2 separate regions of the Homo sapiens genome follow, and region 2 is linked to region 1. A link means that fine-mapping ties the variant in region 1 to the expression of a gene that starts in the linked region. Tissue or cell type: whole blood. Region 1 holds a variant in brackets; the other region holds the start of a gene. All regions are shown on one strand. Distances are from middle to middle.

Region 1 (8,088 bases):
AAGTGACCCTAAAATAAAACAGCCAAATGGAAGCAAACACAAGTTGACAAAGGCAGCCTCGCTCCCGGGCAAGAACGGCAACCCCACTTTTGCTGCAGTCACGGCTGGCTACGACAAGAGCCCAGGTCAGTGCCTTTGCTTCAGAGACCTGCCACGCCAGGCGCCAGGCCTGGTGGAATGACCTCTGTCCTAATGTGCCTTCCATTGATTGAACGTCCATTGTTACAGGTGGGAATGGCTTTGCTAAAGTTTCTTCAAACAAAACAGGTTTCTCCAGCAGCCTTGGCATTTCACACGCTCCTGTTGACAGCGATGGCTCAGACAGGTACGGTAGACCACCACTAACCGCTAGAAAGACGGAAGGCTTCTCAAGTCGGGTTAGCACCTTTTTATCCATAAATGGGTTTCAGGGCATTTTTCCCCTAATTTACAAGGAGGCATTTGTCAGAAGTGGTCAAGTGCCTCTAAGAAATCATGTCTGCTGGGTGGAAGCAGAAAGCCGGCTGCGGTGCCTTCCCCAGGGGGTCCAGATAGAGAAAGGGGGCACCCATGCCTGTCTCAGCCAGGCAGACACACGTTACACCTGTTCTCACTCTCCTCCATCTCCTGGTCTGTGGTAAGATGTGATCTGATCATTAAAAATAGAAGAGCGAAAGTGACTTGGGAGGGGGGAAATCTGGAGCAAATACTAGCCAATTTATAGTAAATCACTGGCCACGCCTCTTTCTTGAGCAGGCTTGTTTATCATGCAGGGGGTGTGGTGGCCTGCAGCAGTCACCTTGGTTGACTTTTCCAGATAAGCAACAATAGAGCCCCAATTTACCTACTTTGCACTAATAGGAAATGAGTTCTAGATTTGAAATAGTTTTTAAATAAATCTTCCAGTACCAAAAAGCAAACAGAAGGAAAAAATGTCTGTTTCTCTGCAAAACACTTGCTTTGAACCTGGCTGTGAGCTAGTGATAGGGCATCCGGAGCTCTGGGGCTCCCTCCGACTCAACCCTTGTGGTAAGCAGCCATTGTTCAGCTCTTCCTTTTGTCTGTTTTTAATATTTGAGTACCCCCAGTTGAAGCAGTGTCTCCTGTTTGTGAAGCTGTGCACTATGGATCCGTTTGCACTAACCACCATACATTTTTGTGTGTTGCGTTTTCCTCTTGTAACATTTAGCTCGGGTTTGTGGAGTCCCGTCAGCAACCCAAGCAGCCCTGACTTCACTCCCCTCAATTCGTTCTCCGCCTTTGGAAACTCTTTTAATCTAACTGGTGGTGAGTGTTTAACACTAGATGTGTAACTAATAAGCCTGTGGACAGAGGAAGGGAGAGGAGGTGTGGTTTTGTGTGCTGGAGAACACAGCACAGCAGCACTGTGGAAGAGGCCCCGCAGGAAGCTCCCTGGGAAGGGTCCCCTCCCCTCTTCCTCCCTCATCCACACCAGCAGCCCAGAGGGGCAGTGGACCAGGCTCGACACGGTGTGCGCACACCAGTTGGTGTGAGTTCCATGGCGGGTATTGAAGGGCTTCACAGAAGGGTTCTGGTCTGAAATGGGACCCCTGAGTGTGCCAGGGGTCCTCTTCTTGCTGTCCAGAACTAGAGGTCACCATGGAAGCTTCCCATTAGCTATCATGTGAGAGTGGGGAAAGTTTGCATTTGGATGTCATTGGTGGCATATCAGCTCGTGCACTATGCGTTTGAGTTCTGGAGGACACTCCTGCCCCTACTTCCTCTGGGCTGTGGTGGGCTGGTGAAGTGGGTGTGGTGGCTCCAGGAGCAGTGGTTGGAGGTATGCCATTGAGTGAAGCCCCATATGCTATAGTGATCATGGCAAAACCAAATATGGACTTGATGACTGTTGCTTTATTTCCAGAAGTTTTCAGCAAACTCGGATTATCTCGATCGTGCAATCAGGCCTCACAGAGGAGCTGGAACGAGTTTAATAGTGGCCCTTCATACCTTTGGGAGTCGCCAGCGACAGATCCCAGTCCTTCCTGGCCAGCCAGTTCCGGCTCCCCGACCCACACAGCCACAGTGAGTACTTGGGGCTGGGGCTGGGGCCTGGACCTGGCCCACCCACTCGCCATCTGCCATTGCTGTGACATGGATGGCACTGACATAGTTATAAACAACAAACAGCAGCATCAGAGGGGTGGGTTAGTACTTTTATTGTCTCCATTGCTTTGTCTTCATATTCTGTCAAAATGACTGATCGATGTTCTTCAGAGCCATTACAATCAGGAAGTTTTAGGAAGAACAACTGAACAGCTATGGGGTTGGTCTCTGGAGTCCCTCCTAATAGCTCAAGGGCATTTTCTGCCTCTTCCCAACCTGTAAATGGACCACAAGGGTGACCATAGGCCTATGGCAGGTTCAGATGGTTGAGGGAAGCCTTCGGCATCTGTGCAATGCAGCCACTGGCCACCCAGGAGCAAGCTAGATACTGCATTTACTTTGTTGCTGAGAAGCACCTGTCTCTTAGGTTAGATTTTCAAGAGTGCATTTGTTTGCTTCTTGGCTAAAGTCTTCTGCAAAGACCATGCTGAAAAGAGTATTCTTGCCAAGGAAAATAATTAGTGGTTTTGGCTTCCACAAAATTATGACAGAAAAATATGACCCCACTGTGTTTGCCTCTTTGTTCTCAGAGAAACTAAACATGCAAGGTTTTATAACAGATATTTCAACTTTACAGATTCCAAAGGTTGTCTTCATGTGTAATTATTCAGCCTTATGTTTTAAAACCACCTTAACCATTCTTTAAAAGAGAAGTCAGCAAACTTTTTTTTTTTTTTTTTGAGACAGAGTCTTGCTCTGTAGCCCAGGCTGGAGTGCAGTGGCACAATCTCGGCTCACTGCAAGCTCCGCCTCCTGGGTTCATGCCATTCTCCTGCCTCAGCCTCCTGAGTAGCTGGGACTAGAGGCGCCCACCACCACACCCGGCTAATTTTTTGTATTTTTAGTAGAGACGGGGTTTCACCATGTTAGCCAGGATGATCTCGATCTCCTGACCTCGTGATCCGCCCACGTCGGCCTCCCAAAGTGGGAGTCAGCAAACTTTCTATAAAGAGTCAGATAGTAACTATTTGAGGCTCTGAAGGCCATGCTTCACCACTGCCATTGCAGTGCACAGGCCGATGGGCGCAGCTGTGTTCCAATACAACTCTCTTTACAAAAGTAGGCAGAGCTGGATTTGGTCCACAAGCTGTCTTTTTTAAAATATCACAACTAGCCGGCATGATGGCTAGTGCCTGTAATCCCAGCACTTTGGGAGGCTGAGGTGGGAAGATCACTTGAGCCCAGGAGTTTGAGGCTGCAGTGAGGCATGATCACACCACTGCACTCCAGCCTGAGTGATGGAGCAAGACCCTGTCTCAAAAAAATCAGAAACATCTGCTCAAATACATATATATAACATTTGTTCTAAAGTAAACAAAGTAAGAGGAATGCGTGCCCCAGCCTCATCTTTTCTGTAGCCTTACCCCCTTACCCACTTGACCCTCTGCCTGCCGGGCTCAGTGCTGGACGCTTTCTGTTTTGTCGCAGTCGGTCCTCGGTAACACCAGCGGCCTGTGGTCCACCACTCCATTCAGCAGCTCCATTTGGTCCAGCAACCTTAGCAGCGCCCTTCCCTTCACCACTCCAGCAAACACGCTGGCAAGCATCGGCCTCATGGGCACAGAAAACTCCCCTGCTCCTCACGCTCCCTCCACCTCCAGTCCAGCTGACGACTTGGGACAGACCTACAACCCGTGGCGGATATGGAGCCCCACGATTGGAAGAAGAAGCTCGGACCCTTGGTCTAATTCGCACTTTCCTCACGAGAATTAAATTAAGCAAAAAACAAACAAACATAGTGGGCCCTCGTCTAGATCATGATGTGCCAGTTTCTGAGACATCTTTTTAAGGCTCTTACTGCAGCTCCCCTCCCCACCCTCCTCTTCTTTGCAAAACAGACCCAAGCAGGGCAGGCTCAGACCACTCGCTTCTTTCAGATCTTTCTTGCAATTATGATAACATGAGATTTGCTGTTGTGCTTTTAGAGAAAAGTCTGGACTCAGCCACAAACTCTAATAAGACCTGTACATCTGAGAACCTTTCCCGTTACTGCGTTTTCACCACCTGTCTTCCCCATGCTTTATTTATCTGTATGAACACAGATTTGACATTACAGCTAAGGAAATAATTTGAGTTGATTCAGAAATCCTGGCATGTGACAATTTTGTTAAATTACCAAGTTTGGTTTTTAATAATTTCTCAATATTATGCGCCAAGATCTAATTTTAAAACTGTATGAGGACTTTGTGCTGAAAATAGAGTATTTTTTTAAAGTAAGGCTGTCTTGGTTTAAAAGCAGATTACAGAAATGTAAGTCAACTTAAGAAC[G/A]GTGAATGAATGTAAAAACATTCAGTTGAGACCATATGCATTTTCTGTGCTGTTTGTACTTGAGGTATGTAACATTTGTATACCTGAACTTATTTTAAAGATGAACTGAAATGCACATAGCCAAGTCTTGAGATACAAGATTGAATGTGTATTTCTTAAAAATACAACTTTGTGTTGTACTTTGAAATAAATGATGCTTTTTTCAAAAGCCTTGTTTTGTGGTTTTTTTTACACACAAGGTGTATTTATTAGGATTTTCTCACACCAAAGTAAACCACCTTATCCTTGCCTTACTCTGTGGAGCTGACAGGTTAAGACGGGGTTTGCCTTCTCATTGCTGGAACTTCCTGCAGTCTAATGGAGTTCTGTGTGTTCCCATGGCAATCATGGAGGGTCCTTGATCGAAAACAACTTGAAAGCCTGTTTGGATTCATCCAGTAAGCGTTTTCCCTCTGCCACTATCCTAAAAGGCCTCATAAAAAGCAGTAATTGCTACCATTTATTGAATACTGACTCTGTCAGGTACCTGGCTAACACTTTGGGATATGTTGGGTTACTCCATTATACTTGAGGAACCTGGCTGGGCAGTGCTGGCTCAGAGGCCCCAGGTCAGGCTGACCGCAGATTCACATGGCACCCACTGTGCTGCCTTCCTTCTGGTCACAGTCACCATTCTCAGGAACAGTCTGTGTCCAACTCACCACTGCATGTTCTAACACTGGCCAACCTTTACCAGCCTTCAGTCTGAGGAAGTTGTATGGTGAGAGGAAGACAGAAAAGGAGAGAAGCGGGGCACAGAGGGAAGACAGCAGGGGCACAGAGGGAAGACAGCAGGGACTCGGGCAGCCTGGGGGAGGGCTCTGGGGGCCACCTGTGGGAGCTTACCAGCAGCAACACAGCATGCAGTGCCCCTTTGGCCCTTTCATTTCTAAATGATGGCTTGGAGACAAGGGGGGATGCCTTGGGCTATGGCACAGGGGCTGGGGGTACTAGAAACAGCTATTTACCCACTGGTATTAAAATGCTTTAGCAGTTTACCTGCTAATACAGCTATACCCCAAAGCCAGGCTGGATGGAAAGCAACCTGTGTGCTACTGAGGAATGGAGCCACAGGTGGCAGTCACACAGGGTGCCATGTAGAAATACCAGCTGGGGCTGCTGGAAACGGAGCCTTGGTGCAGACTGGAAATGACTTAGCCAAGCCTGTAAGGTGCAGTAGTAAAGACTACACATCTAAATTTTATTTTTTTTCTTTTAACTAGAAGTGTGTTGACCCTTTTCCAATTTTAAGACTTTCAGCTCCTCCATGGTCCCTGTTGAGTTCACACAGACACGAGGCGAGTCTCGGTACGCCACAACGCATCGGTTGGTTTAATCTTGCCTGTTCCAACTTGCTTTTCTCATTGTCTTGTTTCCAGTCTGTGTTAAAGCCAGGCTTTGCTAGGTAACATAAATGTTCTGTTGGAGGCTAGTTACATCATGAAATCAAAACTATCCCCATGAAGGTGGGAGTGATTTAGTCAAAATGTTATTTGGCGTGATTGTGAACCTGACCTTTTCTCTGCTTTATACCAAAGCTCACAGAACAAGTCTCATTGTTTTGACAACTTGTGATTTGTCCCTCGGGGACACCAGATTTCCTGTGCAACCAGAGCTATGGTGTGTAGGCTGACATCAGGCCTTGTACAATGTTAGCAGCAGGGTTTCCTACGTGCACTTGCACGATCAGGACAAATTCAAGTCTTGGGATTCTCTTTCTACACCAAAGCAGATAATGACGTGTAAAGCTCTACATACAGGTGAGCTTCATATAAACCCTCACTTAAACCAAAGAAAAACTGGGCCAGGCGCTGGGGCTCACACCTGTAGTCCCAGCACCTTGGGAGGCCGAGGTGGGCGGATCAACTGAGGTCAGGTGTTCTAGACTACCCTGGCCAACATGGTGAAATCCCGTCTCTACTAAAAATACAAAAATTAGCTGGGGGTGGTGCTGTGCATCTGTAATCCCAGCTACTCAGGAGGCTGAGGCAGGAGAATTACTTGAACCTGGGAGGTGGAGGTTGCAGTGAGCCAAGATCATACCACTGCACTCCAGCCTGGAGACAGACAGAGCAAGACTCCATCTCAAAAAAAAAGATAAGAAAAAAACTGTATTGGCAGACTTTTCCTCAGAAAGAGTATCTCAGGAATTGATTCTAAACTTGCTTCATCAGAACAATCGCCTGAGACCCCCCCCGACCAAACTCCTTTTTTAAGTTCTAATTTCACCCCATGAGCCTCGCCAGCAGGCTTGAGAGAAACACTGTGTACTTGGGAGAAGATACAAACAAGGGTCTCTTCTGTTACTTGTGCTTTCCAAATAATTACTCTAAGGGTAGGTATTTGAGTGGCAACATACCCACCAAATCTGAAGATCTGACACAACTCAGTCTGTTTACAGTGAACACTTGTTGGCATGATAGTCGCTTTGTACTAGGCCAAGGTTGAATTTAAAATTACAGGTTGTATATAATTATATTTACATGAAATGATAGTGGATGTCTTTATTTATTTTGAGACTGGGTCTTGCTCTGTCGCCCAGGCTGAAGTGCAGTGGCACAATCATAGGCTCACTGCAGCCCTGAACTTCCAGGCCCAAGCAGCTCTCCCACCTCAGTCTCCCAGGTAGCTGGGACAAAAGACACGGACCACCACATCTGGCTAATTTTTTTTTATTTTTTTATTTTTTGTTTTTTATAGGGATGAGGTCTTGCTTCGTTGCCCCCTCTGGTCTCAAACTCCTGAGCGCAAGCGATCCTCCTGCGTCAGCCTCCCAAAGTGCTGGGATTACAAACATGAGCTGCTATGCCCAGGTATCTTATATGTTTATATAAATACGTATAAACAAAGGTATAATCTTTTTTAAATGTTTTTTTACCTAAACTGTGTATCAAAGGAGTGAAATTAGAATTTGGATTTTTCATGACAACCTGAAATAATGTAAAGGATCAGAATCTCATTTAAAAGACTGTTTTAGCCATCCGGGAAACACAGACTCCAAAGGAAAGGGGTCAGTGTTCCGGAGCTAAAAGGTTAAGGTCTCTTTTATACAGGCAGAAAACACATTTAGTGGAATCACGGCATTTTCCATATGAGTCTGGCTTATGAGCTACAGCAATTTGATTAGTTACAGCTTGATGTTTTTTCTTTCCAATTGAAAAGACTATATTTAACATTGTGATTTAGAGAGTATAGTAGTTGTGAGGTCCTTGTGTAAGAGAAGAAAGAGGGAAATTATAATGACGATCAACAGTTAGGAGGAAAGGGGTCTTCCCTGCTGCCCATGAGTTTTTTATAACATTTTACAAAACAGTGTAGGTAAAGAAAAAGGATAGTCTATGATCAGAGAAACAGGTTATAGGTGCCTGTTGCATGACTCAGGCCTCATCATCACATTCCTTTAAGGCTCTAAATAAAATTTCAACAGCTTTGATTTTGAATTATTTTCACACAAGTAAAGTGATTTAGTTATGCTAAATTTGAAGAAAGATTCCTTTTTGTCACCAAATTATTAACTCTCAATGTAAAAAATACGCTTTAGTAATTTTGTTAGAGATGCCTTTGAGTAGCCTTGTCCTAATTTTACTTGTTCCTATTTCAAAATGCTACCACAGAGTTAAATTCACCCTTAAAATATAGACCAATCCCAGAAATTAGGTCATCACAGATGACTAA
Region 2 (8,103 bases), 240 kb before region 1:
CTCCTTAAGTATTTTGTGGAATGAAGTGGAGGTATCAATGGATCAAGGATCTTCGTGCCTAATGTGGTGTTTTGAAAAGAGTGAGTGCTCACTAATAGCTACTTTTGACAGTCTCCTATGTCCCAGACACTAGTCTATATGCTTCACAAACCTATATGCTTAATCTCCCCAAATTTATATCATAATCCCCATTTTTACAGATTAGGAATCTGAGGCCAGAAAAGTCATTTGCTCAGCATCATATAGCTAGTAAAGGCAGGGATGGGATTTAAGTTCAAATTTGTCTGAGTCTCTTATAATTCTGCCTTGAATGGTAAATTACTAACCTGCATAGAGAGCAAAATGAACAGAAAGTGAGGAGTCCCAACAGCTTGTAGCTCCTGGCATATATCACTGTGCAACAGTCTTCAATCTTGAGCCTGTATCAGAATCACTTGGATGCCTTGTTTAAACAGATTGTTGGACCTCAACCCAGAATTCCTGATTCCACAGGTCTGGGATTTGGCCTGCTAATTTGCACTTCTAACAGGTTCCCAGGTGTTGCTGCTACAGCTGGTCTGGGGATGACACCTTGAGAACCACTGGTTTAGCGAGTTTTCCCTGACTCTGCCAGCTAATACCTCCACCTGCCAAATGGCCAGGTCTCTCCAATTTCCAAAAGGGAAAAAGAGAAAAGTTCACAACTAATCAGAACTATTTGAGAGTCCTTAGTGTGATGGTTCCTTCAATTTTAACTCCTGGTTCTCTCCTGAGACACATGAGGGTTGGGGAGTGGGGGTAGAGGATCATAGGGTGATGGTGGCTCCACGCCAGGTTCTCTCTAACACACAGTTTACCATGCTGTCTAGCAAAACGTCTTTCACTGTTAGACTCTCAGTGGCCTCATTGTCCTTTCCTGGGAGGAAAGTTCCATCATCACCCCTCCTGCTCCTAGTGTCCCTCAGGCACAGGGGAGGGTTCAGGTATGGTGGGCCTTAAAAGCCTACCCAACTATTGGGAGGGCTCCTTTAAGAACAAGAATACAGGCTTATAAATACACAATTAGGTTCAGGGACTTGGAAGGAACTTGTGCAAGAGAGGGGGCCCTGCGGCTTAAGCTTCATTAGCTGCATGGGAAATCGAACTCTGATCAAACATGTCTGTATACGTCTAAAGATCCAATTACAGACAGGTGCAAGTTATTTCCCATGGAGCTGCTGAGCCTCAGGCTAACCAGGGGATGTGGCTGATTGCTGTGTAAGAGAACCTCAGCACTTCATGGTTGGAAAGGCTTGTTTGTCCTGAATCTGGCCATGGGGGAAGGGCTGCTGACTTGCAGAGCTAGCACGTTGGAGGCTAAGCAAAAGCGCTCAGTTACATATCCTTGGGTTTGATCTCTTCCGTGAGTCAAAAGCCTTCCAGAAATCTCTTGCCTCAGACATTTTAAACGCCAACTTAAGAGATAATTATTCCTATTTCATTACATCAAAATAAAATTTGACTACTCAATTTTAAGGCTAATATTCAAAAAAGTAAAATTGCTTATGATTAATTTTTTGAGACGGAGTTTTGCTCTTGTCGAGGGTATAGTGCAGTGGCGCTATCTTGGCTCACTGCAACCTCCACCTGCCGGGTTCAAGCGTTTTTCCTGCCTCCGGAGTAGCTGGGATTACAGGCATGCACTACCACGCCCGGCTAATTTTTATATTTTTTAGTAGAGACGGGTTTTCACCATGTTGGCCAGGCTGGTCTCGAACTCCTGACCTCAGGTGATCCGCCCACCTTGGCCTACCAAAGTGCTGGGATTACAGGCGTGAGCCACTGCGCCCTGCCCTAAAATTGCTTTTTAAAATCATTAGGCTAAGGTCATATTTAAATATATATTAATTTATGAATAAATTTAAGTGCTTGCTTGACACAGGGGACTACTTCATAGAGTAGATTCTGGAGTTCCTTTTGTCTTTCTGAAACCTTATTTTCCTATCTAGCTTGTTCTGAGACGTACTGTGGGCAGACTTGGCCTTACACATATATCGACTCACTCAACAAATACAGCTAAGGAAAGTAAAATGTCTCTGGGCTACAAGCTGGGAGGAAGTTACTAAGATGAGTAAAGAAGGACCCCCTCCAAGAGCTTAAATTAAGTCTTGGAGACAACAGCCATGCGCACCAAGAAGCTCAACCTAAGATGAAAAGGGCATCTAAGAGGCGCGAGATGGCTCGTGAAGGTAACAGACGTCTTAAGAATTTTTCCGGGCCCAGCACAGTGGCTCACGCCTGTGATCCCAGCACTCTGGAAGGCCGAGGAAGGCGGACTGCTTGAGCCCAGGAGTTCGAGACCTGCTCGGCCAACATAGTGAGACAGCGTTTCTTAAAAGAAAAAGAAAAATTGGCGTGGCGTGGTGGCGGGTGCCTGTAGTCCCAGACCGCACCACTGCACTCCAGCCTGGGCGGCAGAACCAGACCCTGTCTCAAAAATAAATAAATAATTAAAAAATAAAGAAAAGAAAAAAAAGAATTCTTCCTCGAGAGAGGAAGCCGGCTACTGGATATTCTAAAGAGCAGTCTGTTTGCCCCTGCCTTCTCCATCCAGAGTCACCGACGCTTTCTGCACACGAGGTGTTCCGCGCCAATGTGGGCACAAGCCAAGGCAAGAGGACTCCATCAAGCTCCTCCTGGGTACCATGATTTGGAAGACCCAAGGATGAGTTCAGCGGGCCACCATCCTCAAGGAAGCACCATCAAGAACTGAGTCAGGCCCGGGGTATTCTCGACGTCAAAGCGGTCGAGAGGTGGGGGTGCCACCAGGAAGAGTCACTGGAACGGACCTTCCGCGCTCGTCTCGCGGTCTGTATGCGCACTCACACCCCTGGAAGGCTCTACCACTGTAGGACAGAGCACGGAGGATTGCCCAGGCGCCGGAGAAGAGGTTAGCGCCCCGCAACTCCGCCCCTGCCCCGCCCACGCAACGCGGCGGCTGCGCGGCGAGGCCGCCCCGTCTCCACGTGATTGCCGACACCGCCTCCGCGAAGCAGAAGCCGCCATCATAAGTCCTGGCAGCTGGACCTGGGCCTGCCTCCCTCCTTCTCCTGCGCCAGGTAGCGGTAACGGGCTGGGGTTGTTCTGTCCTGGTTCTGTCTGGCCGTGAAGCCGCAGGCCTCCGAGAGCGGGACGAGGAGGTGGGGCCCAGGGGGCTCCGGGGCGGACAGACTGACCGCCGGACAGCCCAGGTGTCGGCACAGCGTGGGCGGTGCCCAGAGCCGCGCCCCGCCCCTCGCAGGCCAGCGCTCAGGGCTCGCGGGCCGTGCCCGTTTCCAGTATGGCCGCCCGCCGCGCCTGACCCGCGGCCTCTCCGCTCCGACTGCTTGTAGGCGATGCCCAGGCAAAGACCGTGACTGACACTCTCGCTCACACGCACGCACGGACCCAGGCCCACGCTCGGAGATCGAGCCCCGGGCTCGCAACCGTTGTCGCTCCCGGCGCCGCGGCCAGAGCCCGGACCACGGCTTCCGCGCCGCCGCCGCCTCGCCGAGAAGGGCCGCGCCGGACCTCGAGCGCGGCGGCCCCCGGCCGGCAGGGATGGGGAAGCGGGCGGGAGGAGGAGCAACCGGAGCCACCACCGCCGCCGTCTCCACGTCCGCCGGGGCCGGGCTGGAACCTGCGGCCGCCCGTAGCGGGGGCCCGCGGAGCGCGGCCGCCGGCCTCCTAGGCGCGCTGCACCTGGTGATGACCCTCGTAGTGGCTGCGGCGCGGGCCGAGAAGGAAGGTGGGTGTCCCCCGGCGGCGTCCCTGCGGCGGGGCTGTCACCCCGCTCTCGCGGAGGCCGGGAGGGCTGGGCCGGGAGGAAGGGCCGCGGCCGGGGCTCCGGCGCAAAGTTGGGCGGTCGGGTACCGTCCCGAGCCGGGACCTCGCGGCGCCCGCCGCACGGAGTGGCCTTCGCTCTCCGTGATTCCTTCCCGTGCCTTCCCCCGTCTCCTGTCACTGCCATTTCAAAACTTCCTGACTTCTCGTACGTTCTTGCCACTTGGCCCGCTAGGTAGGAGGGGCATATTTTTTGGCTTTATTGCGGCGAATAGGTACATTTTAGGACACTTCTGTTTTCTTGGTTGCGGTTGGTTGCATGCAGACAGAGCTTACTTTAAAATGTGGTAAAAATAGCGAGACACAGCTTAAAAAATTTCACTTTGAATTTGTTCAGACATTTCTTCGAGGGGAAATCTTGGTCCTGTAGCTTCCTCCTTTAGTGTCTCTGCGTTATTGATAACTTTATTATTAGACCTAAATACAATTCCATTTAACTCTTTAGTAAGCTGTTGAAAGCCTGTTTACATTTCTTATTTTAAAATACGTGATTCGGTGCCTTTATCTTTGATGTGAAAGCCTTTAAAAATAAACGTGAAGTTGCCAGCTTGCAAGCATTTATCTATAATTTACAGTTAAGGGCTGGCCCCTATTTTAAAAATCTCATTAGTATTGTACTGCTGCAAAACGGGTACTTGGACAGGGTCAAAAATTATTTTGTAATCTTGAAGACCAAATCAGTGTAATTTCATCTACACTACCTCTTTTTGAGCCAAGGGACATGTGAATGGTCACAGAGCCTTCATGAAGAATTGACTAAGTGAATAGTTTAAAAAAAAAACAAACCACGCAAAACTTGTTAGTTTAGCATTGCACATGAAACTGCCTGTACAAGAAAACAATTTCTTGCCACGGTAATTTTAGAGTTAACATTCTACTTTATGACTAAAGTCACTTGCTTTTTATTGTTGCTGAAGGTGAAAGCAAATACAAACCAAATTAGTATTAAAGTGCAAATGTGCTTCAGTATACTGTTTCTTTTATTTTTGTCCACATTACATTCCCTTATCTAACTCTCTAAGCAACCTTAGTCTGAGTTAACATTGGTGGAAATTATTCAAAGAATTGTCGTCTATAGAAAGGATTAATTGATGGAAGCAAAATTATTTCCAGAATAAAATATTGCCGCTTTAGGACTAGTCGGTCCTGGGGTTGTCATAATACATCATTGGCCACAGATCTGCAGTTAGTTGAGTGTTCTTTCTTATGTGTGATCGTGGCACCTAGCATTTTGGCCTGTAGTGGGTGTTCAGTGAACCCAAAATAGTGCAGTAATTTAATGGACATTTTTTGGGTGGGACTTCAAGTAGACCTTGGTGGGTATTGTGTCCTTGTTTTTCTGTTCCTTTGCTTACCTTGCACAGTGCCAGACACACTGGCGCTTAGCCTTTGAGTGAATGACTGTCTTCATGCGCCCTTAGCACAGGGAATTGAAATAATGGTTGAATCTAGTAAAGCATTAAGTTTGTATTTTCCTTCTACTGCTGCTGATTTTTCCAACAGCCATTTTATATGCTAATAAAAACTTTACTCTGGGTAAAGTTAAGTAAACAAACCTTTTGTTTGAGAACTGTCAGCCTAAAATATATTTGCTAATTTCTCATTTGCATAGTTTATACATGTTAGTGCACCTCTCTAATACCCATAAATGTGTGTAAGGATTGGATGAGGAGAATACTTGCCAGGGTGTTAAGTATGTATTAAAGGGGTGGTTGAATCAGCCAGTGGCCTGGGTGAATCAGATATCCTTTGTGGCCCATGCTTTTCTGTATGAACAATTTGTGTGTGCGGTTATCCAAGATATTAATGGAGATGATGCTGATATAGAACATAGGCCTCTACCCATCATAAACAGATCTGGTTCTAATCAAATATTCTGTGAAGGTATCTCCAGAAATGGCTTCTCCTTTAAAACTGATCATATTCCAGTATTGTTTCTGAGTAAGTAGGGGAAAAGCAATTTATTTTCTTACGTGATTGTGACACTGTGAGTCTGGCATCTGATGAGGCACAAATACAGTATTTGTCCTAAAAGGTACTGTTGAGTTTTTCAGCAAGTTTGGGCAGATTTCTGAAGATGGCTGAGTTCAGTTTGATCATTCACACCCGGAGGAATTTTGTGTCTATTGAAGTAGCATAAACTAGTTTAAAATTTCAAAGTTAAGATTTACCTGCAGTTTTAATGATGATTCTGCAGGTATTTTGTATGTTTGTATTTCTTTTCCTTCATTACTGTATAATTTCACTGCAAAATCTTTAAAAGACAATAAAACTCATTGTCTCCTGAAGAAAAGCTGCAGAAATAAATTACCTAATGTAGTTTTTCATGTTTGGACTTGATGTTGATTTTCTTGAGTCAGAAGCATGGACCATTCCTTGTCTTAACATCCTATATGACTTAACTGAGCTATGGGAGTGTGCTATCACTAGTCCAGAGGAAAGGTACCTTTGAGATGGTTTTGGCTGTGATGTAAAGTTTGTAAGGACTTTGAAAGAGTTTCCAGAGATAGAAGTTGTTATAATCACTACAAATAACTAGTTCTAGATTGGTGGCAAGATTTTGTCTTGAGGCTAACATCTAGATACTGAGAATAGCAAAAATGTGTGTGAGTTGTGAAAATATATTTTTAAAATATATAGTGAAAATACATGTGTATGTGTATATATTAAATGTATACTTTTAGTAGTCTTTTGAATTATAAAGCAGCCCATTATGACTGGCAAATAAGACCTTTTTTAAAAAAGCATTATATATCATGTAATATAATTTCATTGTGAAGTGGGTTTTTGGAAGGCATTTATTATAAATGAGAAGCTATAGTTTATGTATCTAGTAAATATAAATTCGAATAAGTTTTCAAGAATGTTTCAATTTATGACAATTTAAATTTCATTGTCACATGTTTTATTAATTGGCAATTAAATGGCAGGGTAACGTTTGACAGCCTTTATTAGGACTTTAAAAATTTTTTGCCAGTGTACTATAGTTTCATGCACAAATTTTTGTTTTAAGCTGTATTTGTGACATAGGTGCAAAACACAGTACAAAAGTATTTACAAAGCATATGAGAAAAGTGCATAGGACTAAAGACCACAAGAAAACAGATAAGAATCTAATAGTTTTCTAAGGGTAGCCAAATTGACTAGGAGTGTTATTTACTTTTTCTTAACCAAACTATTTTTAACCTACTTATTACTCGATAATGTTAAAATGTTTTTGAAAGTGATTTTCTTAAGAGTGAGATGTGTTAACCCTTTGTATGGGGTAGAGTGGGTACCTTTTAATTTAGGGCCTTGTAAATAGAATGTTATTTAATAAGTGCTTCACTAATGAACGTTTGTAGCCTGCTTTTACTAAAGGCTGTTGCCTGATGGAGCATTGGAGTTTTGTAGTTGGAAAAAGTGTGTCCTTTTTTCCTCTTGCTAATGACCATTTTCCTCCTCCTTCTAATTCTTACAGTGGACCCTCATAGACATCTGCCAACAAGATTGCTTTGGGAGTAGATGTAAACTCATCTAATTGTTACTATCCAGAGTAGCAATAAGCCAAATTACTCTTGGAGGAAAATAAAATCTTTGCTAGGTGCTTGATATTTTAGGTGTTCTCTCTCTTGCCTATATGTGACTCAAGCGCTCTGATTGGCCTTGCCAGACCAAGAGGCCCTTTTCCTACAGCTGAATTTTCCCCTACGGTCTCTTGTAAGCAGCATCTGGCATTGTTTCGGTGACTCTGTACTTCTCGGTTCTGGTTGTGCCCTAGCTGACAGTTGCTGCTCTCCAATTGCCTGTTGGTTGTCTTCCTCCCTGTGTGTGTCTAGCTGCTGGTGCACACTGCATGTGTCCAGGGCAGAATTATCTTGCGCCACCTCCAGTTTTCAGTTTTTTATTAATGCTATGATTATTCTGCCTGCCCCACTGGATTCAGTTTTGACCCTTCACCAAGTGGCATCAGTGCCTGTTACATCCTCTTTTGATCACTCTCCCACTGCCTTCACCATGGGGCACTGCAGCAGCCTCTCTCCTACCGCCTTTCGCCATTTCTGTTCAGTCCTGCATGCTCCCTCTGAATTTGTGGTCTTTGTTAATCATTCATCATTCATTTTGACACCTAATTGTGTACTGCCTTGTTAGCTACTTAAATGATTTCAGGGGTGTCATTCTTCACCTAGGCTGGAATTTCTGTAGGGCAGAACCTTTGTCAACATCTGTAGTACATAAATAGCAGGCATTCAGTTTTGATTGAAAGTTTGCCTAAACTTTCAT

The links. PIP is the estimated chance that this variant, and not a neighbour inherited with it, causes the effect.
Region 2: it holds the start of TMEM131, and the variant in region 1 is fine-mapped to the expression of TMEM131 in whole blood (TOPMed, PIP above 0.99).

The regions. Positions count from the first base shown.
Region 1 is chr2:97,752,830-97,760,917 of GRCh38, reverse strand. It overlaps TMEM131 (transmembrane protein 131), which reads left to right. Exons shown (of 41, transcript NM_015348.2): 37 at 4-125; 38 at 229-325; 39 at 1,169-1,266; 40 at 1,865-2,025; 41 at 3,535-4,582. The coding sequence ends at 3,819. It also overlaps a transcript of ZAP70 not described here. Among named protein-coding and RNA genes, the nearest start is that of ZAP70, 43 kb to the right of the region's middle. The variant G/A (reference allele first, on the strand shown) is at 4,375.
Region 2 is chr2:97,991,118-97,999,220 of GRCh38, reverse strand. TMEM131 (transmembrane protein 131) reads left to right here and starts at 3,273. Exons shown (of 41, transcript NM_015348.2): 1 at 3,273-3,745. The coding sequence starts at 3,559. It overlaps LOC124905591 (a long non-coding RNA gene), which reads right to left and starts at 1,578. Exons shown (of 2, transcript XR_007087148.1): 1 at 327-1,578. RefSeq lists enhancers at 2,564-2,843, 3,014-3,527, 5,160-5,239 and silencers at 3,064-3,313, 3,424-3,983.